Homo sapiens: one gene and its partners. The protein of the gene in region 3 purifies or fractionates together with the protein of the main gene of each other region. This does not show direct contact. Each region holds a gene or a part of one and is shown on either strand. Other genes may lie near its edges.

Region 1 (7,021 bases), on a different chromosome or scaffold from region 3:
GAAATAGCTATATTAGACTTGAGGTTAATTGTACATTGGCTAAAGTCCTTCTGATGAGAATTATTTTGATCATAACCGATATAAAATATATATTGAAAACACTATGAGCATAAAATGAGTAGAATTAAATCAGTTTTCTATTTCATTCAATATCCACAATGGTCACTTTTGAAAGGATACCGATGATTAAATGTAAGACAATTTCATGAATAACAGACACTAAACAGCTTTTTTTTTCACATGAATTATATTTTAACAATTATTTTAAATAACATCTGGGTCAAAAGTTTAATTCAGCCTTACCAATAAGTGTAAAATACTTTTGTCATAGGTATACAAACTAAACTCTCCCAATCCCTGGCTTTGCATTGTAAACAGGTGAAATATCCATTCTTCTCTGTTAAAACCTGCTTAAAATTACTGTAACCTAGATTGGTGAGCAAGTGGCTATTACCAAAGTTTATTTATTTAGATTCTTATTTATTCAGCTGTGATACTTCTCACTAATGTCTAGCTTCCAAAAAGTAGTCAATATGGAAAGACATGAATTTGTTTTATATCCAAATCAGCTGCTAATATTAGTCACTTTTGTATATAATCATTTAAGCATCTTAAGAAATAAAGACTGTCATCATGAAAAATATTTATTAGAGTAAATAAGTAAAATTATTTATTAGAGTAATCTTATATTGAGTATTTTATTATGTTGAATATTCAGTCTTACACTGAGTATTCTGGTAAAGCAAAAATCAACAAGGAGTCTCTTTTTTTCCAACTTACGTATTTCTTCTGAAATCTTTCATTAATGTTGAATGTTCAGGCATCTTTTTTATATCTTCCCAATCTTTATCTGTGAAATACATTGATAAATTTTTATGTTGCCTAAGTTCCTATTCTTGAGAATTTTTAAAAAGGTTATTACCACGTTCATTACATTTCCTATCCGTTCAACCTCCACACAAAAAAGCTGTCTTCAAATAAATGTTCAGCAACAGTAAATATCTTGAAGTGTAAACATAATTCCTTATCCCTTATATAACTTTATATATCTGTTTATATTTTAAATTTTAAACTGCAAACTTTCTGTATGTTTTACTATAAGCTGCCTCAATTTCTGTCACTAGAGAAGAATAAGTTATACATATTTCTATTTATCTTATTAAATGTCCTCTTTCTATTAGTAAAACTGCTTATTTCCCCTTTTCTACCAAATTTCTTGGTTAAGTCAGCAATCAATTTCTTCAATGAGAAATCTAAGATCTTCCCCTCAGTGGCTTTAAACTATACTTCTTTTTATGATACAGCCCTCCTTTCACCTTGTTAAATATATTTCTTTACATAAGCAATCAATGGAAGAAGGGGTAATAACTATTTGCACAATAGGGTAGGATATAATTAGTATATTAATAAGTGGGCTGGTACCTTGGCTAGTCTGGTTAACATTACCCAAAACAACCCCAGCTCCTAAATACGTTAAGTACAAAACGTTTCAGCTACTTTTGCTGGCATCCAAGTTGCTCAAACAATACATGCTACATAATGTGTTCTCTCCAATATCTGCCAATGGGTTTTCCTGAGAGTCTACTAGGTGCAAAGGACTGTCACAGGCAGCTTAACAGCACCTTTAGCTCTTTTTTTTTTTTTTTTGAGACGGAGTTTCGCTCTTGTTAACAGCCCAGGCCGGAGTGCAATGGTGCGATCTCGGCTCACCCCAACCTCTGCCTCCCAGGTTCAAGTGATTCCCCTGCCTCAGCCTCCAGAGTAGCTGGGATTACAGGCATGTAATCCCATGCCTGTAATACATTACAGGCATGTAGCCACCATGCCCAGCTAATTTTGTATTTTTGGTAGAGACGGGGTTTCTCCATGTTGTTCAGGCTGGTCTCAAACTCCCAACCTCAGGTGATCCGCCCACCGCGGCCTCGCAAAACCTTTAGCTTTTAAATGGCCTTTAGAGGCTTGCTTTTCTTTGAACTTACTTGTAAAAATATTTGGTAACTATCCTCCAAAGACATCACATATTGTAAACTAAACATACACTACACTCCTAAATGGAATTTTCTCCTTAACTATTTTCCTTGCTCCAATTTCTGTGTTTTATCAATTTCTCATGCTAGAAATTTTAAGATAATCTTTAGTTTTCCCTTGCTTATACACTTCCTATAAAACATTTCCATCTGCCCTTTTTTCTCCATCCTTATCTTCACTCTACTTTCTGTCTGCAGCACTGCTACAGCTGGTTTCTGATTTCAGTTAGCTCTTTTTAACAGATTTTTACCTACCACCATCTTACTAAATCTTTCTAAAATGCAACATAAAGCATGTCTCTAGTACTCAAGAACTGATGGATTCTCATTCTTTAGCTATCAAATCTAACCTCTGCTGCCTGCTTTCCAAGCTTCCTTATAAACCACCCTAACCTCTGAACCACATATTAAGAGTCACTGATAGACATCTTCACCACATCTACTCCCTCACAGAAGCTATGCCTTTCCCGTGGGCTCAGAAATGGTGGACACATTCAGAAGCAGGAAGAAAACAGAATTCTTCTGTCTCTACTCAAAACCATACCTACTTTTTAAACATTCTACATATAGCAGTACAATGCAAACTCCAAGGGGGCAAAAATCATGTCTGTTACATCATCAATAACTTTTTACTTAAGACAGTGCCTGGCACATGGCAGGTACTCAATAAATATTTACTGAATAAATAAAATTCCCATCACAACAGAAGTCTTCTCCACACTGGTGACCAATTTTGGAGAAAGGCAGTATCTGTGTAGTTATTCTGCATTTACTGATAATTAACACCCTTACAAGGGAATGTAGAATTAAAAGTCCCAGGTATTATCTCTATTAGTCTTGAGTTTATAGTGACCTGAGAAATATTCCTAATAAGAAACACTTTCTACTAAGTACTTGACTAGCCAAAATTTAGGTGTTTTAAACAAATTCTCATTATTCTGGACCTCTGAGCAGTTTTTGGTGATTACCGTTCTGTAATATAACTAGGGATTGAGATACAGTTGGAGAGATCTAATACCAGGGATAGGATACATGTAAACCATCTCTCTGTTGCAAAACAGCAGGCTAACTCACCATAGGGTACTATGACTCTCACCCACATTGTGACTGTTCTAAGAGAAGACTTAAATGCTATTATTCAATATAATGTGATTCTGTATAGTGCCCTAAATAGAAATAAGGTTCAAAATTTATATTTGAATGCCAAATAGTGGCAGTATTATATGTGCTGCCAGAAAAAAATTCCTACTACTGAATTCATTTATAGTTTCTACTGGTAAGAGCTAAAGGTACCTTTTTAATACAGATATTGAACATATTTTATCATTTCAAATACCAAATAACAAAACAAAAAAGTAAAACAAGATGAAACAAAAATACAGTCCTGAAATTCAGGAAACCCATAAATATTTCCATGCCAATATGTAAACTCTACAAATTTTGCTGTTTCTACGGATCTTTGATAAATGCAAGTCAAAAAACAAAGACTCAAGTAAAAGTAGCTTCCATCAGCTAAAAATATATACCTCTCCAACGAAGACATCTAAGTTCAAACAACAGTGATTTAAAAACAAAAACAAAAACGAATAATGTGTACCTGCAGGAAATCCCATTACATTGAATATTCTGTCCAGCTGGTCATGGTGATAAGGATTACTAGTTTTGATGTCCTCTTGTCGACAGTGAAATATTGGTTCTGACGTTAGTAGTTCTGCAAATATACACCCTATAGCCCAAATATCTTTAAAACAAAAAGAAAAAAAAAAAGAAAGAAAAATAGGCAAGGAAAAAAGAAAAAGAAAGGTGCAAAATAAAGTGGTTCTTTCCAAAAGAAAATGCAATTTTATTTTCTTGGGGAGTGTTTTTTTCTTTCTTTCCCTAATAACTCATATTAATTCCTAAGCAATTATAATTACTAAATACCATGAAACATTATTATAAGTATATATTCCCATGCCCTCCACCCCGATTTTTCATTCTGTATACCTCCATACCACCCAAATGGTTTCACTCTAAGCCCAATTAAATGTACTGGCTGGATTTTGGTGAGTTTTCAATGTCCAGGTGATACCTTTTCTGTGAACTACAGTAAAGCTGCATATGGAGCATGGGAACTACAACCAAAGAAAACTAAACAAAAACAAACGGAAAACCCAAACAGTATTTGAAATTGGGCACTCGCCTAACATAATCAGTGTAAATTTTTGTGATAAAATATTTTTTATTTTATTTACTTGCTAATTTGCAAGGTCTAATAATTACCCTCTCATGTTAGCACTAATCAGTAAGGTGGTATTCCACCAAGAGACAATGTCCGACCTCAAAACGCCTAAGAATTAACAGCATTTCTACTTTAACAAAGTTTTTTTTCCAAAGTGGTTCTTGATGCCATAAGCAGTATCAGATTTTGCAAATTTAAGTATTTAATGCAAAGGACAGGAAGCAAAAGCAAAATATTACTGTTAACATGGATTATAAATTCGGCCGGGTGTGGTGGCTCATGCCTATAATCCCAGCATGTTGGGAGGCTGAGGAGGACGGATCACGAGGTCAGGAAATCAAGACCAGCCTGGCCAACATAGTTAAATCCTGTCTCTACTAAAAATACAAAAATTAGCTGGGCATGGCGGCACGCGGCTATAGTCCCAGCTACTCAGGAGGCTGAGGCAGGAGAATTGCTTGAACCCGGGAGGCAGAGGCTGCAGTGAGCCGAGATCGCGCCACTGCACTCTTGCCTGGGCGACAGAGCAAGACTCCGTCTCAAAAAAAAAAAAAAAAAAAAAGGGTTATAAATTCAAATGAATTATTGACAAAAGCCAGGCAAATGGGTTTCTCTGTACACAACAAAGTAAATTCCTTTCATTCACAAGATACAGATTTACTTTCATTCAAATTAAATTTGTACTCAAAAGAACTATTAGTAGAGGTAAGATCTATTTGCCAATTTAGAATTTAAAGCTGAAAATATTTCATTTCTACTCTTAACAAATCCTAAACTAAGTACAATGGTGTGCATATAGCAGACCCTCAACACATGGTTTTTGACTGACTTAACCAATACCTGTGACAAATATAAATAACCAAAGGGAACAAATCAAAATTACTATTTTATCAAAGCTGATTGTTCAGATATGTTAATAACTGTCACTTAAACAGGAAATAAGAAAAAACCTAAAATGAGAATTCCTAAATTCCAAAACTGGAATAGAGATATTTAATTTAATCTAAAATTTCACATATTTACATTTCAAAGTAACAAGTTAATCACCTATTTACTTAAAGATTCACACTGACTGCAGCAAGTGATTTTAAAAAATGACATCGTATTTACATATCAGAGAACCAAGCCTAGCCAATACCATCATATGGAAAAGTCTCATCAAGAAACATAGGCCAACCTATTTTGTTTTTGTCATCGAAAGGTATATGGGAAAATTAATTATTTTGTGATTATTCTTTTTATATGGGTATACCCTATAAATCTAACCTTTGATAATCAATGGCCACATAGGCAGCTAAGTAGGATCACAAAAAGGGATGATGGATGGCTTTGCATGTTTAAAATTCTACTTACAGCACACCCAATAAACACTGTAACAATTCATCTGGTTAGTTATTAAAAATTCCAAAGAAGAAAATAAAATATGTAAAGGAAGATGAAAGGTAAGTAGTTTAGCTATAATTAAAGCTACACTGCTCTTAGCTGAGCATACTGGCATATGCCTGTAGTCCCAGCTACTCAGGAGGCTGAGGCGGGAGGATCGCTTGAGCCCAGGAGTTTGAATCCAGCCTTGACAACATAGCAAGACCCTATTTCACAGAAAAAATGTATGCAAAGCTACACTGCTTTTTAAAGAAAAAGTCCAGTCAACAGGAAAAATAACTTATTGAACCTTGCTTAACTCCCTCCCATCTAGTAACTCTTCTGTCTTTATAACTGCTATTCTCTCTCACCTTTGTCAATTTTACCATTCTTCCTTTCTTCAAAATCCTGACCCATACATTAATCATTAACTCTGAGTCAGCTGATCAGGCTATTATTGCAGATAAATTTCTAATTATTGTAAATAAGTTTCTTTTTCCTACCTTGTTTTTTTTTTTTTTTTAGATTGTGCCCAATTCATGGAAAGTCTCTTTAGTGTTCACCTGCCTGCCAAACTCCTTATAAAATGGCTTTCCAAATTAAAAACATATAAGTTTCATCTACTTCTCAAAATGTGTGATGCTTATAGGTAGCTACTGAGCTAACCAGGCAAAGGAAATAGTAGGAATTGGCATGCTATACAGACCAAATTTGGGAGGAGAAAAGACTTTGCTCAATAATATTTGAATCAACAAGTGTAGTAATAGCAAGCTTCTTGTTTTGATAAAAGGGAAGAAATTCTCATTTTCTCTATTTTAATGTGTATTTCCCACTTAGCAGAATGCCTCACATTTAGTGGCCATGCAGCTATTTGAGGACAAACACCTGAGCTTAAAAGTCCATACTTCAGTAAGACTTTTAGGACTACTTTAGTGGCACTGAATTAGAGATTGATATCCCTTTTTTTAGCCTTTTCCCCAAAGTAAATCAGACAAACAAAAATAAAAAACAAAACACTCAAAAGTGAATTAAACTTAGTTCCTGGGATTACAATGTTTACTAACCTATTATTTCCTCTCTTTGGTTTAGTGACTCAGCTTGCAGTTCTGCACAACGGAATAAACCAGCACAGCACTACAATCTGTTTGTAGTAGATGGGGCATATGTGAGTTTGATGCGTTCTGATCAGATTTTTTTCCCTATGCTTTTGCTCCTTCTTAGTAGCTTCGTAACAGATGTAACCCCTTCATTAAATGGAATGTATTCAGCAAATTATCTGTATGTTCAACTAGAAAGGCTCTTCTATCACCTGCTCACAATTCAGCTATCAAACAAGGAAGTCAAAATGCTGGGGAAGTTCTTGGTAAGCAGCTTTAATGGTGGTGTGAGAAATTTGTTGAGTATTTTAATC
Region 2 (7,392 bases), on a different chromosome or scaffold from region 3:
AGCACCTTATCCACACTCCACGTACAAGAGAATGAAGACATTCTACGTTCCTTTAAAAAAAAAAATCAACTAAGCATTTCTATGGTTCTCTAGTTCAAAGTTGCTACTTAAAAAATAATTCTTTTTAAAAAAGCATATTCAAAAATCAATCCCTTGGTTTAAAGAGGTTTAGGGGAGAAATATCTCAAACACAAACCTTTAGTCATTCAAAATCAAAGTACAGAATCCTCTCCTACAAAATTGCTTCTCCAAAAGAATCTCAAGCATTTTATCTCTGTAACGTTATCATCCTTACTTAAGCTTTAAAAAAAAAAAAAAAAGATAAAAGAAATGATATACCCTAAAGACTGGCTATACATATACTTTCATTTGTCTACAGAATCCGTATATACACAGCCATTACCAGTCAGCATAATATATGATAATTTGGGAGATCGCTCTACTTGGTTATTTTAATTACCTGTAAGTGTCAATGTGGTCACCAGTAACCACACAAAAACCATTTTAAATACCCCTTGATCAATATGTTTGCTAATCTATGGAAGTCCCTGAACCTGACTGATACTAAATGATAAGACTGAGGAGGGAAAAAGTTGAGGCAAAAGGGGGTTTTACTCCCACATACCAAAAAATCAAGGGAAAATTATCACAATACTAAGAGAAAGAATTCCAACTTATAAATGAATTTTAAGATTAAATATCTGGATTAAAATATTTCATTTAAAAAAATTTACCTGATTTTACTAGAGTGGGAGCAATGATACTATGTCTTTGTAGGTAAAAATCACGTGTTGATTTTTTGGTCTGCATTGTAACACATTTAATAAAGTAACACTTTCATTTGAAAAGTTGGCGAGAATTTGCATTTCTCCATTAGTCTCATAGCAAAAAGGCATCTATGCCACCCATAATTAAATGTAACTAATTACAATTTGAACACTAAATTATTTATCCAGTGTAAACAAGGATTAAGAGGGAAATAATGCTTCTATCTACAGCGGGGGTTACAGAAAATAATTTCCAAAATGCATGCTCTCCAAAAGGGACTCACCTCCCCCCCAAAAAAAACAGGGTACACAACTTAAAACAAGTTGGGTGTTTTTAAGGCTAAATTAAATAAACCGTTCAGCCAATTTTCCAATTATATTCTACGCTTGAAACGTAATTGCCTTACATCTGTTTACAAATCTTTGCTCAATATTTAAACAAATTCGTACTCTCCTGGGCACATAGCTATACATACAGTAACTCATGCACAAAGCACATATTTAAAGACCACGCACTGCAATTATTAGCCTAAACGCCAGGTTTAACAACGTGAATGTTTTCAGAGGTAGGTAATACGACCCAATAAAAAGCAAAGATGGCATTTACCACCAAATGTCACTGACACCGCCAGGAAAAGAGTTGCTGGAGCCCTATACATTTTTAATTTCGATGAATCTAGACACCGTCGGCGGGTGCCAGGCTTCCACGAGAACAATTGACACCCTAACTGCTTCAAGATTAAGGCAGGCGATTCAAATCCGAAGGAAAAGTTGTCAATTATCAGAAAGAGAGAGCGCGAGAGAGGCGAAGGCAGATAAAAGCGATGTTATCAAACCGACCAGCTTGTTGCTTTTGTGTGTGTGTGTGTGTGTGTGTGTGTGTGTGTGTGTGTGTGTGCGGATTCGTTGTTAGGATAGAGAAAAACAGTTTTTAAAAGACACAGGAGGAGAGAAAGAAGAAAAAGCTTTCTCCACCTTCCGTCGGCTCGGTGCAATGGCTTTACGGCTCTCCAGCATAGTAAGCCCCGAGAGGCAGGCGGCTGTCGATGTTTACAATCGCGGGAGCTTCGGGTGCAAGAGTCCTTTCCTGACACAATCGCATTCAATCAACTATTTTAGGGCGAAATTGCAGGTGTCATTATGGAATTTAAAAAAATTCAAAAGGCAGGCGGGCGGGCAGGCAGCTGATCCAACAACGGGGGAAGAGGTTGCCGATCGGAGGCGCGGCAGCACAAGGCAAAGCCTTCCACATTTACGGGGGGAAAAAAAGGGGGGAAAGGGGAGGAGAAGGGGAGTGCGATTGCAACAGAGGGTGGGCGTTCGAAGTGCGACCCAGAATCCGCAGCTCCGAGACTTCCACATGCAAATTCCACGCCGAGCGCCGCGCTCACAAATGATTTTTAAAGAGCCAAATAAACACTGGATGGGATCCAAGGCGAGAGAGAGACGATCCAAAAGGGGGAGAATCGGCGAGAGGCGAACGGCGGGGAGACGCGAGGGAGGGGCGAAGTCCCGGCGGCGGGAGGAGAAAGTTGGTCGGCGGCGGAGGTCGGGGACCCCCCCCCTTCCCCGGCACAGCCCCCTCCCCGCAGCCCGGCTACTCACCAGCGAAAAGAGGTTGGAGTGACAATCCTCCAGGCTCGCCCCGTTCGCCACCCAGTTCGCTGCCGCAGTCATGATCCTCCGCGAGCCCGGCCGCCAGAGCGGGGCATGTCGGAGCGAGGCGTCCGAGGCGAGGCCGGGCCGGGCGGCGGCGCCTCGCCGGGGAGCGCGGGGCGGCCGGGCCGCCGCCGCCGCCGGGGGAGGGCGCGAGGGCCGGCGGGCAGGCGGGAGGCGCCGCGGCGACGCCGCGCCGGGGGCAGCGGGCCCGGGCTGGCGGGGGGGGCGCGCGCCCCGGGCCGGCGCTGCGGGCCGGCCACCGCCTCCGCCTTCCCTGCTCCTCAGCCGCCGCCGCCGCCGCTGCTGCCGCTGCCGCCGCCTTGTTTATCTCCAGCCACCGACTCCCCCTCGGCCCCCGCCGGCGCGCGAGGGGAGGCGAGCCCCGGAGCCGCCGCCGCCGCCTCGGAGCCGCCGCCGCCGCGGAGCGCGAACTCGCGAAGGGGGGGGTGCGGACGAAGCCAGCGGGCGACCCCGGCAGCCGAGCGACGTCCCCTCCTTCCTCTTCCTCCCCCACCCCCCCCTCCTCCCCAGTCAGCCTCGCTTCTCCTCCCTCCCCGGGCTCGCTTGCTCTGACAGCAATGGCGGCCGCCGACCGCGGCTCGGCCCGCCATTGGCTGGCGCTTGGTCACGTGACGGGCGCCGGCCGCGCGGGGGGAGCGAGGGGCGGGCGGGGGAGGGGTCCGGAGTGGCGGCGGCGGCGGCGGCTCGCGGGAGGCGCTGCTGAGCTGAGCGCGGCCGGGTCCTCCGGCCGGGAAGAGGGAGGGAGGGAGGCAGAGAGGGAGAGAAAGAAGTGCGGGCGGCCGGGCTCCCCGGCGGGCGGCGGACTGCCGGCCCGTGGCTGCCGTGGGCTGCCCCTCGTGGCCGCCCCGCCCCCTCGCGGTGCACTGATCGTGGCGGGGCGGGACCGTGGGTCCCGGGCGCGCCCGTGGTGGCCGCGGAGGAGGGCGCGGGACCCCCGGCCTGTGCCCTCGCAGCCCAGGCCGGCTGGCGTGGCGCGGCGGCCGCGATGTGGGCCAGGCAGCGGGTCCGAGTGCCCTGGGGAATGTGTCCTCAGAGGCTCGCGCCGCCGTCCGCCTTTTGCAGAGGAGAAAACTAAAGCACAAAGGGATTAAATCACTTGCCCGAGGTCGCACACTTGGGAAGAGGAGTCCAGATTCGAACCCGCGCACAGTGAAGCCAAGCTCTTGGACAAGGTTTCACAGGCTTCGCCCAGGGATATTCACGGCTGCCATAGACGGAGCGCTTACTGTGTTCCAGACACTGTGCGTTTAATACAGAAATGTTTATTGAGCCCTTACTCCTAGTTACTGTGTGCACTCATTCATTCATTCATTCATTCATTACATAAATGTTTCCTGAGCTCCTGCTGTGTGCCAGAATCTGTTATAACTTCCAGGCACTGTGCTAAGGCCGTGTTGGGAGCAGACCCTTCTTCCTGGCGTCATTCATTGGATAACCAACATTTCCTGAGTGTATATGGCCTGGGAGTCCGGAGGAGTGCTGCTATGAAGAGAAGCTCTCCCAGTCCTCAAGAAATGGATCCCCGAAAAGGGGGAGGAGAAAACAATGTCTTCACTAATACGCCTCCAAACATGGAACAATCAGCTGTTTCAGGTAGATTAAGCTAAAAGAGGAAGAGTGGATGGCTGGCACAGTGGCTCACGCCGGTAATCCTAGCCGAGGTTTAAGACCAGCCTGAGCAATGTAGCAAGAACCCCCGTCATGACAAAAAAAATAAAATACAAAAATACAAAAATTAGCCAGGCGTAGTGTGGCATGTGCCTGTAGCCCTAGCTACTCGAAAGGCTGAGGTGGGAGGATAACTTGAGCCCTGGAGGCAGAGGCTGCAGTGAGCCCAGTGAGCCGAGGTCGCATCACCGTACTCCAGCCTGAGTGACAGAGAGAGGCCCTGTCTCAAAAAAAAAAAAAAAAAAAAAAAGGAAGAGTAGAAAGCAGGGAAGAGATGAGAGTGTATAATAAGAGAAGTCTTAAGACACGTGAACTGAGTTTTGGAACTACCACAAATACTGCTAAAGCAAAACTCATGAGCAACATGTTATAATGTGTATTATCATGCAACATATTGTTACAATGAATGTCGTTACCTACATTATTTCACATAATCCGCAGAACAACCACCTAAAGTAGATACTGTTATTATTCTTAGGCTGTAATTAGGTAAAACTCAGAGGTGTGCAGTGACATCTCCAATCTCTCAGTTAGTACATGGCTCAAACTCAGGTCCTTCTGACTCCAGAGCCCGAGCATGAATTCAGGAGGCTCCTTAGAAAGATGCCTCTGGCTGGCTTTGCCATCCCTCTAATTGCATTATTTTGACCAACATAGTTTAACTCTTTGAGCCTCATTTCCTAATCTCAAAAATTGATCCTGATTGCTGACCCAATGACCTCAGGCCAATATTGAGAATTTCTATTAAGATACTGTTGATGAGCGGATGCAGTCGCTCACGCTTGTAATCCGTGCACTTTGGAAGGCCAAGGCGGGCAGACCAACTGAGGTGAGGAGCTCGAGACCAGCCTGGCCAACATGATGAAACCCTGTCTCTACTAAAAATACTAAAAATACAAAAATTAGCCGGGTGTGGTGGCGTGTGCCCGTAGTCCCAGCTGCTTGGGAGGCTGAGACAAGAGAATCGTTTGAACCCAGGAAGCAGAGGTTGCAGTGAGCAGAGATTGCACCACTACACACCAGCCTGGGCGACAGAGTGAGACTCCATCAAAAAAATAAATAAATAAATAAATAAAGATACTGTTGGTAAAAGTAAAAAAAAAAAAAAAAAACCACTCTGTCAACATACACGGTGTTACTTAGGCCTGAGCAATTCGAGGGTATAATGCCCATCATATCCAGATTCCATATATTTACATCAGAGGTGAAGGTAGTTCTATCCTACTCACCTGGTGACCAAATTGTCATTCTTCAGCATGTTTAGGTTTAAGTAGAAATAGTAATAGGCCAGGTGCAGTGGCTCACACCTGTAGTCCCAGCACTTTGGGAGGCCAAGGCCAGCGGATCGCTTGAGTCCAGGAATTCAAGACCAGCCAAGGCAACATGACAAACTCCCATCTCTACAAAAGAATTAGCCAGGTGCTCACCTGTAGTCCCAGCTACCTGGGAGGCTGAGATAGGAGGATCGATTGAGCCTAGGAATTTGAGGCTACAGTGAGCCATGATCTTGCCACTGCACTTCAGCCTGTGTGACGGAGACCCTCTCTCGAAAAATCAAATACTAATGATAAATCTTTCAGAGCAAAACCTAATAGAAACATGAATAAAGGACTTGGACAGTTTACAGAATAGAGAAGACCAGCTTTTAAATGCAGTCATGTACTACATTTTGGACAACAGTGGACCACATATATGACAGTGGTCCCATAAGATTATAATACCATATTTGTACTGTACTTTTTCTAAGCTTAGATGTGTTTAGATACACAAACACCATTATATTACAACTGCCTACAGTATTCAGTACAGTAACATGCCATACAGGTTTGTAGCCTAGGAGCAATAGGCTATACCATTTAGCCTAGCTGTGCAGTAGACTATCTCATCTAGGTTTGTGCAAGTGCACTTTATGATGTTTGCACAATGAGGAAATCACCAGTGTTACATTTCTCAGAACACATCCCCATCATTGACACTTGATTGTATATAAAATGTTACTCAACCTCACTCGTTGTTATTGGCTGAATGTTTGTGTCCTCCCCAAACTTCATATGTTGAAACTCTACTCACCACTGTAAAGATATTTGAAGGTGGAGCCCTTGGGAGGTAATTAGCATAAGAGTGGAGCCCTCGTGATGGAATTAGTGCCGTTGTAGGAAGAGACACAAGGGAGTTTGCTTCTCTCTCTCTACTGTGTGAAGACATAACCAAGAAGAGGGTCCTTACCAGGAACTGAAATGGCCAGCACCTGATCGTGGACTTCCCAGCCTCCAGAACTGTGTGAAGTAAATGTCTGTTGTTTAAAGCCACCCAGTCTATGGTAATTTGTTATAGCAGCTGGAGCCGACTAACACACTCATCATAAGAAAAAGCAGAAATTAAAGCCACAAGAAGTATTGACAGTATTTTAAAAGCTTAGACAAATGTAGAGAGAAGTAGGACTCTCATACACTGCTGGTGGGAATATAAATTAACACCATAGCTTTGGATGTCCGTTCAACTAGCATCAAAATCTATAATGCACACAGCCTTTGACCCAGCTGTTCGACTTCTAGAAGTTTATCCAACAGAGATACTTGTACGATTGTATAAAGACATGCAGTGCAGGGATATGAACTATAGCATTGTTTGTAGGGTACAAACTAGAAACATGTCCATCATTTGGGGAATAGTTAACAATATAATTTACTCCCATGCAGCCATTAAAAATAATGAGTTAGTGCTATTTGCACTAATATGGAATAATCTCAAAAATAGATTATTTATTGAGATACCTCAGGAAGGGTAACAAGAAACTAGTAGTAACATTAGTTGCCTCTAAGGAGGGGAACTAGGGGGACTGGGAGTTGGAGTGGGATTACTTTTTACCATACTGTTTGCATTTTCTTTTTTCCTTTGTTTAAAATAACCAAATGTTGGCCGGGTGCTGTGGCTCATGCCTGCAATCCTAGAATCCTAGAACTGGGAGGACAAGGTGAGTGGATAATTTGAGGTCAGGAGTTCAAGACCAGCCTGGCCAACATGGTGAAACCCCATCTCTACTAAAAATACAGAAATTAGGCGGGCATGGTGATGCGTGCCTATAATCCCAGCTGTTTGGAAAGCCGAGGCAGGAGATTGCTTGAACCTGGGAGGTGGAGGTTGCAGTGAGCCAAGCTCCTGCCACTGCACTCTAAACTCTAACCTGGGCGATGGAGTGAGCCTCTGTCTCAAAAATAAATAAATAAAATAAAATAACCAAATGTATACATATCCATTCAGTGCAGTAAGTTATAAA
Region 3 (7,894 bases):
CTTCCAAGTAATCTTCCTGTTCTTAGACCCACCTTCACCCCTATTTCCAGGGGGTCCTTGCACTAGAGTTCCTGAGATCTGGGGATAGGCCATGGTTAACAAACCAGGTGCTTAGGAGTTGGTAGATGAATTAGCCCTGGTCATCCACTTTGTGGCAATCATCTCCTGTCCTATTCTTTTTGGTTTTATGCTTTTTATTTTTGACACAGGGTCTCATTCTGTCACCCATGCTAGAATGCAGTGGCATGATCTGGGTTCAAGTGATCCTCCCACTTCAGCCTCCCAAGTAGCCAGGACTGCAGGCACACACCACCATGCCTGGCTAATTTTTTTTGTATTTTTTGTAGGGACGGGGTTTTGCCATGTTGCCCAGGCTGGTCTTGAACTCCCAGGCTCAAGCGACCGGCTCGCCTCAGCCTCCTAAAGTGTTGGGATTACAGGCATGAACCACCATGTCTGAAGGTTTTATGCTTTTTTTTTTTTTTAAACTCCCTTCTCTGTCCTTTTAGATGGAACAGAGACAAGCACATGTGATCAACCCACTATGTTTCACAGGTACACTCCTGAGTACATCTCCCAACAATCCTATGACATAAGCATTCCCATTTCACAAGAGAAAAACAGGCTCAGAGAAGCTAAGCTACTTGCCAAGGTCACCCAGTCAGCACATTATAGAGCTATGACATAATCTGAACCTCTCTTTTGAGGTCCACTATGGACATATTAGAGATAAGAAGATTATGGCCTAGAAAGGTTAGGCATTTATATCAAGATTAGAAGGCAAGAAAATGTCAGTACACAGATTTGAACACAGGGCTGTCTAACTTCAAAGCCTGTTCTCTCTAGTATAACTTACTACTACATCTTTTAAGGCCAACCCAACCCAGCTGCTCTACCAGGGCTCAAGAATATACTCTTGGGGAGTTCAAGAGCTGTCCTTGTGAATGTGTACATTTTGTGTTTTCATTTTTCCACATTTTTCTTAAAACCAGTAAACTAGGGTTAATCAGAATAAACCCTTTATAATCCAGCACTGCCCTAGGATTACAGGGGCTCCATATGTATTTCTGTCTATGATCATTATCACAGGCTCACGAAAACTGAATAGGCTGCCTTATCCTATAAGCATTACTTTTTTTTTTTTTTTGAGGCAGAGTCTTGCTCTTGTTGCCCAGGCTGGAGTGCAATGGCATGATCTCGGCTCACTGCAACCTCCACCTCCCGGGTTCAAGTGATTCTCCTGCCTCAGCCTCCTGAGTAGCTGGGATTACAGGCAGCCGCCACCACACCCGGCTAATTTTTGTGTTTTTAGTAGAGATGGGGTTTTGCCATGTCGACGAGGCTGGTCTCAAACTCTGACCTCGTGATCCGCCCGCCTTGGCCTCCCAAAGTGCTGGGATTACAGGCATGAGACACCATGCCTGGCCCCTATAAACAGTATTTAAACACCAAGTGAAACCAAATGAAGCCAGGGTCTAATGTGAGAACAAAGCCTTTGTAGTTATTTGAAAAGTGGCAGAAGAGCATCAGGTCATCCCACAGCAAGTGAATCTAATTTGCTTAAACTCAAAAGTGGGTGGGCCACTAACAGTCAAGACCTTCACGTTGTAACAATTCCATTTCAGTAAAACAGTGAAGAGCACATTCATGTTCACCTGAATGTTACTGGAATCGTAATTTTCTTTTAATTTACTTTGTTTTGGTCTTTAATGGTTGAGTAAGAGTTACAAGCCTAGGGGTTTACACCTAGTATCACGTGGATATACAGTGAAGTAACATAATGAAAATAATTTACAGCCTGGGCAACATGGTGAAACTCCATCTCTACAAAAAATACAAAAATTCGCTGGGTGCCATGGCTCATGCCTGTGGTTCCGGTTACTTGGGAGGATGAGGTGGGAGGATGGCTTGAGGCCAGGAGGTTGAGGCTGCAGTGAGCCGAGATCACGCCACTGTACTCCAGTCTGGGTGACAGAGCGAGACCCTCTCTCAAAAAAAATAATAATTTAGGCAAACATAAGGATCAGTGAGACTTTTGTGTTTTTGTTTTTGGTTTTTCCTCTACAGAGTCACTTTGAAAACTCAGGCTACCCTGAAGGCTGGCCAAAAGGATGACAACAATTATTTCCTTTGGTACTGTTAGAACAAAGTCAGTACAAGTGGGTCTAATCATCTGAGGCAACTTCTGTGTTTCTGCTTAGTCTAATGTTTCCCATCGCCACCACTCCCGTCTCAATCTTTTTGAATTGTGGGTTATTCCCAATCATGTCTTTTTTTCCTTCTATCTAAACCTTTGGGGGTGAAAAGTTGGCCCCTTTTACTGCGTCCATCCCGTAGCACTTGGCACAGGGAAGATGATGCTTATCTGTTGAGTTTGCTGAACTAAGGAACTAAAGTGAGTATTACCAACATTAAAGGTGAGAAAACTGAGGCTTAAAGAGATTTAATTTGCTCAAGATCGCTGGGATGAACATTTGAGCCGCTGGACAAGAGTCTGCATTTAGTCTCTAAGCTGGCTTCATTCTTAAGGATATCGCACCTCTCGAGGCTCAAATCGTTTGCTTAACTCATGGAATGTCTCTGTGGTCTTGGGAAAGGCCTCTTCCCGCTCTGGGTCTGAGTTTCCCCATCTGTGAAACGGGGGCGTGCCCCAGAGCGCCAAGGCCTCTTGCAGCTCTGAAACGGCTGAGAGGAGAAGCTGGAGGGAGTATGGGGCCTGGTCCTCTCCTAGGTTCTTACCATTTGATGATGTTGTGAACCAAAGGTAAAAAGGAGTAGTTCTCTTCCTCCCTCGCGCGGGCAGGTGACTGAGGCCGTGGCGCCGGCGACTGCTGCGGTTGAGGCGCAGGGACCGGCGGCGGCTGAGGAGGCGGCAGCGGCTTGGTGTCAGGCAGCGGCTGGTCGGACGTTGGCGGCAATACATCCTCCGCCTGTCGCCCGGCTGCCACCCCAGCAGAGGCCATGGCTCCGGGGGTAGGTTAGCCAGAGGTCGGGTCGCCAAAAGCGTCGCGCACTCTACACGTCACCACCGCGCGCCCTGCAGGGGCGGGGTGTGGAGGAAGGCTCTGAGCGTGCGCACTGGGCAGTCGGCGGGAAAAGGCGCGGAGGCGGGGGTGGGGAGGCTGTTGCTAGGCAACGGGCCGTGGGTGGGTCTGGGGTGCCTGGATTTGGATTGTGAGTCAAGATTGCTAAATTATTAAATAGTGAGAAATAGGGGTTTATTTCAGAAATAACAATCTTTTTTTTTTTTTTGAGACGGAATTTCGCTCTTGTTGCCCAGGCTGGAGTGCAGTGGCGCGATCTCGGCTCACCGCAACCTCCGCCTCCCGGGTTCAAGCGATTCTCCTGCCTCAGCCTCCCTAGTAGCTGGGATTACAGGCATGCACCACCACGCCCGGCTAATTTTATATTTTTAGTAGAGACGGGGTTTCTCCATGTTGATCAGGCTGGTCTCGAACTCCCCACCTCAGGTGATCCGCCCGTCTCGGCCTCCCAAAGTGCTGGGATTACAGGCGTGAGCCACTGCACCCGGCCAGAAATAACAATCTTCTTATTCCTATTCACACGATGAAGAGGGCCCCAAAGCCACAAACACAGGAAGCCTTGAGATTAGTAAGGTGCAGCCTGGCCCAGTGCACCCAAGTCTGGAGAGGAGCCACTGGACCTGTGGGAGGCGTAGACAGCACTTACCTGCTGGGTGAGGCACCAAACCCGGCCCAGCCCACAGTGCAAGACATCGAGACCTCGAGTTTAGCCCTAAGGACGCAGAGGCAAAGGGATTGCGGTCCCTTCAATGCTGCAAGGTTGCTTAGAAAGAGTCTAATAATTCAACTCAACACACATTTAGTATGCACCTGCTGGATGGCCACCTGTATGTGTGGTTGCAGGCAGGCTGTCCTTGCTTTCAGTACAAGGTAGAGGGGATTGGTGCCAGGAGTAAATATCATATCCTGGAAGAACGACAAGGTCAGGTACTCTCCATACCTTCGGGCCAGTTCCCCAAGCCCCTAGGTCCCAGTTTCCTCACCCCTAAAATCATATTTAGTTCAGATTCATGGCACAGCCTAAACTGCATTCTAACTTCACATGCGTGGCTGACCCCAAAAGGTCTTGTTGGCATGAGGACTCCCTAGGATCATAGGCCAAAGATGGGTTTATGGTTATGCTTCTCAAAACAAGTTTGATATGAGGGCTGTGTAGTAATTTTCCGGGCAATGGGGACACCCACCCCAAGCTTAGCTAGTGAGTAGAAGACATGAGTGGGGAAAGCTGTCAACTGGTGAGCCCATTCTGCTGTAATCCACCATCATGGGCAGTACAGAGAGGCGAGGAGGTCCACATCCACATAGCATGATGAACAGGAGCCTTAAGAGCAAGGTGGCCAGGGAAAGGATCAATGCTGATATTTTCAGGCACATTGGGAGGGCTGTGCGGAGGCAGATCCTTGGGGAGTAGGACCATAGATGGAAGTGCTGTTGGAGGGTGCGCTGTACAGGTTCTGTAGTAAAGGGCCTCAGCACAGCTCTCTGCAGCAAGAGCTGCCCACGGTGCCCCAGAGAGAGAGCAAAGGGAGGGAGTGGGTTGCGGAGTTTTCTTCCTTCTAACCATTGACCTCTCCAACTAAGGGAAAGTTCAAGAGTTCTGGTTGAGCATGGAGGAGAAAAAGGCCAGATGTGCTTGAAGAGACTGTATACCCTTGGAGTCATCTGGGGAAAGATGATATAGTAATAGTAATAATAATAGTAATTACCACAACTACCATGGAGTAAAAGTAGATACAGGGAACAGAGTTACAGTCACTGTCTCAATCCACAGACAGAGGTCTAGAAGATGGATGTCAGGATCCCCATTTTCTAGATGAGAAAACCAAGACTTACAATGGTTAAGATCCCAGCCTAAGGGTCAACGCAGTTGCTGATGCCAAGTCTATGATCTTAACCAACACTAAAGAGACTTCGGATCCCTACCAGTTCTGTAACTTTATGATTCAAAATGTTAAAGTGGGTTTGAATTCAGAATTCAAAAACCAATCCAATATTCATCAATAATATCCCCATGGCAATCACACGTCATCTTTGCCCTCCCAGAGTGTTTTATAACTTAATTATGAGCCACAACTATATCATTGTCAGAAAAATGAGGATGCTTCTTAAAAGAAAAAACACTTGAGGTATAAATAGATATGGCTAAAGAAAACAGGTTGAAAACCTAGGAAGCATGAACCAGTATGGTGCATTGACAGTTTGCCCTAAAAATAGTTAATATAATTAGTGGCAAAGAGTAAAGCTGACTTCATAATGTTGCAAGCGGATGTCAGAAAAATACTGCCTGTGCTGGTTTCATTAAAGCTGAAATTGCCACAACAAATGTGTGTCTGTTTATAACCTGCTCTGTTAAAAGTCAGGAAAGACAGATGCTCCATTGATATGTAAGGACAATGTATTGTGGTGAAGGAAACTTCACCCCACCACAAGGGAAGCTCTAAGGTCATTGCTTTCTTAGGTGGATTTATGCCGTTTCTCACGGGGCCTTGTCCAGTTAGTGGTTACAAGGTCAGGCTTTGGAGGCAGCCGCCTGACTTCAGCCTCAACTCAGCCTCCTTGGAGCTTCGTGACTGGGCAATTGCTTAATCTCACTTCGTGCAGCCATGCCACCTCGCAAGACTGAATGGGCCATTACTTGTAAAGCACTTAGAGTAAATATCTGTGCGCAGTAAATAGTAATTCTTCTTGCTATTAGATTTAGGACTTCTTACTTCACCAATTAACAAAACCCAGACAGACAGCAGCTAAGAGGAATGATCCACATCACTGCCCTTTGATAAAAATGTAAGCCAAACATGCAAGCCGCAGAGGCGGTGTTCAGTTTTCTAGCAGCCATATTAAAAAATAAGAAAACAGGTCGGGTGTCATGGCTTATGTCTGTAATCTCAGCACTTTGGGATGCCAAGGCGGGTGGATCACTTGAGGTTAGCCTAGCCAACATAGTGAAACCCCATCTCTACTAAAAATACAAAAATTAGTTGGGCGTGGTGGCACACACCTGTAGTCCCAGCTACTTGGGAGGCTGAGGCAGGAGAATTGCTTGAAGCTGGGAAGCAGAGGTTGCAGTGAGCCAAGATCACACCACTGCACTCCAGCCTGGGCGATACAGCGAGACTCTGTCTCAAAAAAAAAAAAAAAAAAAAAGAGAGAGAAAACATAGGTGAAGCTAATTTTAATGATACATTTTATTTAACCCAATATGTCCAAAATATTATAATTTCAACAAGTAATCAATATGAAAATTATTAATAGGATATTTTACTGTTTTTCCTACTGTCTTTGAAACCGGGTGTTTTACACTCACCGTACATCTCAATTCCAGCAGTCACATATCACTGCTCAGCATCCAAATGTGGCCAGCAACTACAGAACTGGATGGTGCAGAGAAATGGATTCATATCAACATAGACAACACTCACATCATAATGGTGGAAATGGAGGAAAAAGCGAGTTCTACAATGGATATAGAGTATATTACCACTTATGCAAATGTTGAAGCATGAAAAATAACATTCTCTATTGTCCATAAATATGACACCTATGTAAATGTATTTGAAAAAGGAACTGGGGGATACACCTCACATGGATGGGACAGGGGACGAAGCAAGGACTGGGAATATAACAGGCACAGCAACTTTCTATGTGGTGTTTTATCTCTTGTATATGAGATAACTTGAAGTAAATAGGATAAATATGAACAACGGCCAAATAGAGGGGTGGGTGCAAGGGGGTTTGGCACATAGACTCCATGCTCTGCTCCTCTCTGGCTCTATGACGCTGGGCAAGTTATTTAACCTCCCTGAGCCTGGGTCTCCTCATCTGCAAAATGGAATCATACAGTACCTACCTAATGGGGCTGCTGAAACAGTTACAAGAGGGAATGCATGTCAAGAGCTTCAAACAGTGCCTGGCACATAGTAAGCATCTATGTGTTAGCTACTACTGCTACTTAATTTTTTTTTTTTTCAAAAACCCTGGAGTAATTATTCCTTATGCAATAAACTGCTACTACAAGAACACATACAAAAACCAGACTGCACCCAGAACTGAACTTTCAGATGCTCAAAGTGGACCCGTATCACACATATCTATGAATATTCTTGTGATACAAGAATTCTGCTACGTAAAGTCCAAAAATAGTCATGTCTCCGTCAGACAGACACCATGGGTCTTGTTAAACTGATCATGTCATCATATGATAGAGGGCTTTTTCATCAAAGCTATATTCTTACTTATGATTCATCCTTTTCTTTTCATAACCTGGAGCCTCAGGCAGGTGGAAAAAGCTACACAATACTTTGATTTTTGTGAGTTAAAAAAAAAAAAGGCAGCAATCATTGTTCTGGCCAAATGTAGTGCAATGTATACCAGGAATCAGCTCACTGAAGCCACGATTCATTGCATAAACCTCAGACAAAAGCCCTTTGCTTGGGTCCACCCTGCGGATTGTCTTTCTTCTCTCTCTGAGCTCCACTTGAATCTCCTTTTTATTCTTTTCAGCCGTCCTCTCCTAACTCTGAGATACTCCATTACGTTCATTTTCTCAACTCATTTCTGTTAGTGGTTTCATTTCTCAGAATCATTTGTTTTGGGGGCATTTCAGCATACAAATCCGACTGTATTTTTTTCAGACTGAGAGAATGTTCTCCTTGAGTCCTTTCTTTTAGTCCTTCTGTTTGTGATCTTTCACCAGATCTTCACCAGCTGCCCTTAAATTACCAAACAGCTTTTGATATAATACAAATGAGAGGCAATCCATTCCAGGAACTAGCTTTTATCAAAAATGGTTCATTATTGTTCTGAAGCCGTATTTTTTCCAATCTCTTTACTACATAATTTTCATCCAAATT

What was found. The genes of interacting proteins can lie anywhere in the genome.
Region 1: the proteins of MED9 (region 3) and CDK8 purify together in Homo sapiens (affinity purification with mass spectrometry; 12 studies listed by BioGRID and IntAct, with this or other methods). This does not show direct contact.
Region 2: the proteins of MED9 (region 3) and MED13L purify together in Homo sapiens (affinity purification with mass spectrometry; 5 studies listed by BioGRID and IntAct, with this or other methods). This does not show direct contact.

What each region holds. Positions count from the first base shown.
Region 1 is NC_000013.11:26,390,114-26,397,134, reverse strand, and holds part of CDK8 (cyclin-dependent kinase 8), read right to left. Parts: intron 3,769-7,021; coding exon 3,625-3,768; intron 851-3,624; coding exon 781-850; intron 1-780.
Region 2 is NC_000012.12:116,274,688-116,282,079, forward strand, and holds the start of MED13L (mediator of RNA polymerase II transcription subunit 13-like), read right to left. Parts: upstream 3,007-7,392; 5' UTR 2,445-3,006; coding exon 2,373-2,444; intron 2,006-2,372; exon of another isoform or gene 1,785-2,005; coding exon of another isoform or gene 1,743-1,784; intron 1-1,742. UniProt on the Homo sapiens protein: Component of the Mediator complex, a coactivator involved in the regulated transcription of nearly all RNA polymerase II-dependent genes.
Region 3 is NC_000017.11:17,472,111-17,480,004, reverse strand, and holds the start of MED9 (mediator of RNA polymerase II transcription subunit 9), read right to left. Parts: upstream 3,006-7,894; 5' UTR 2,964-3,005; coding exon 2,740-2,963; intron 1-2,739.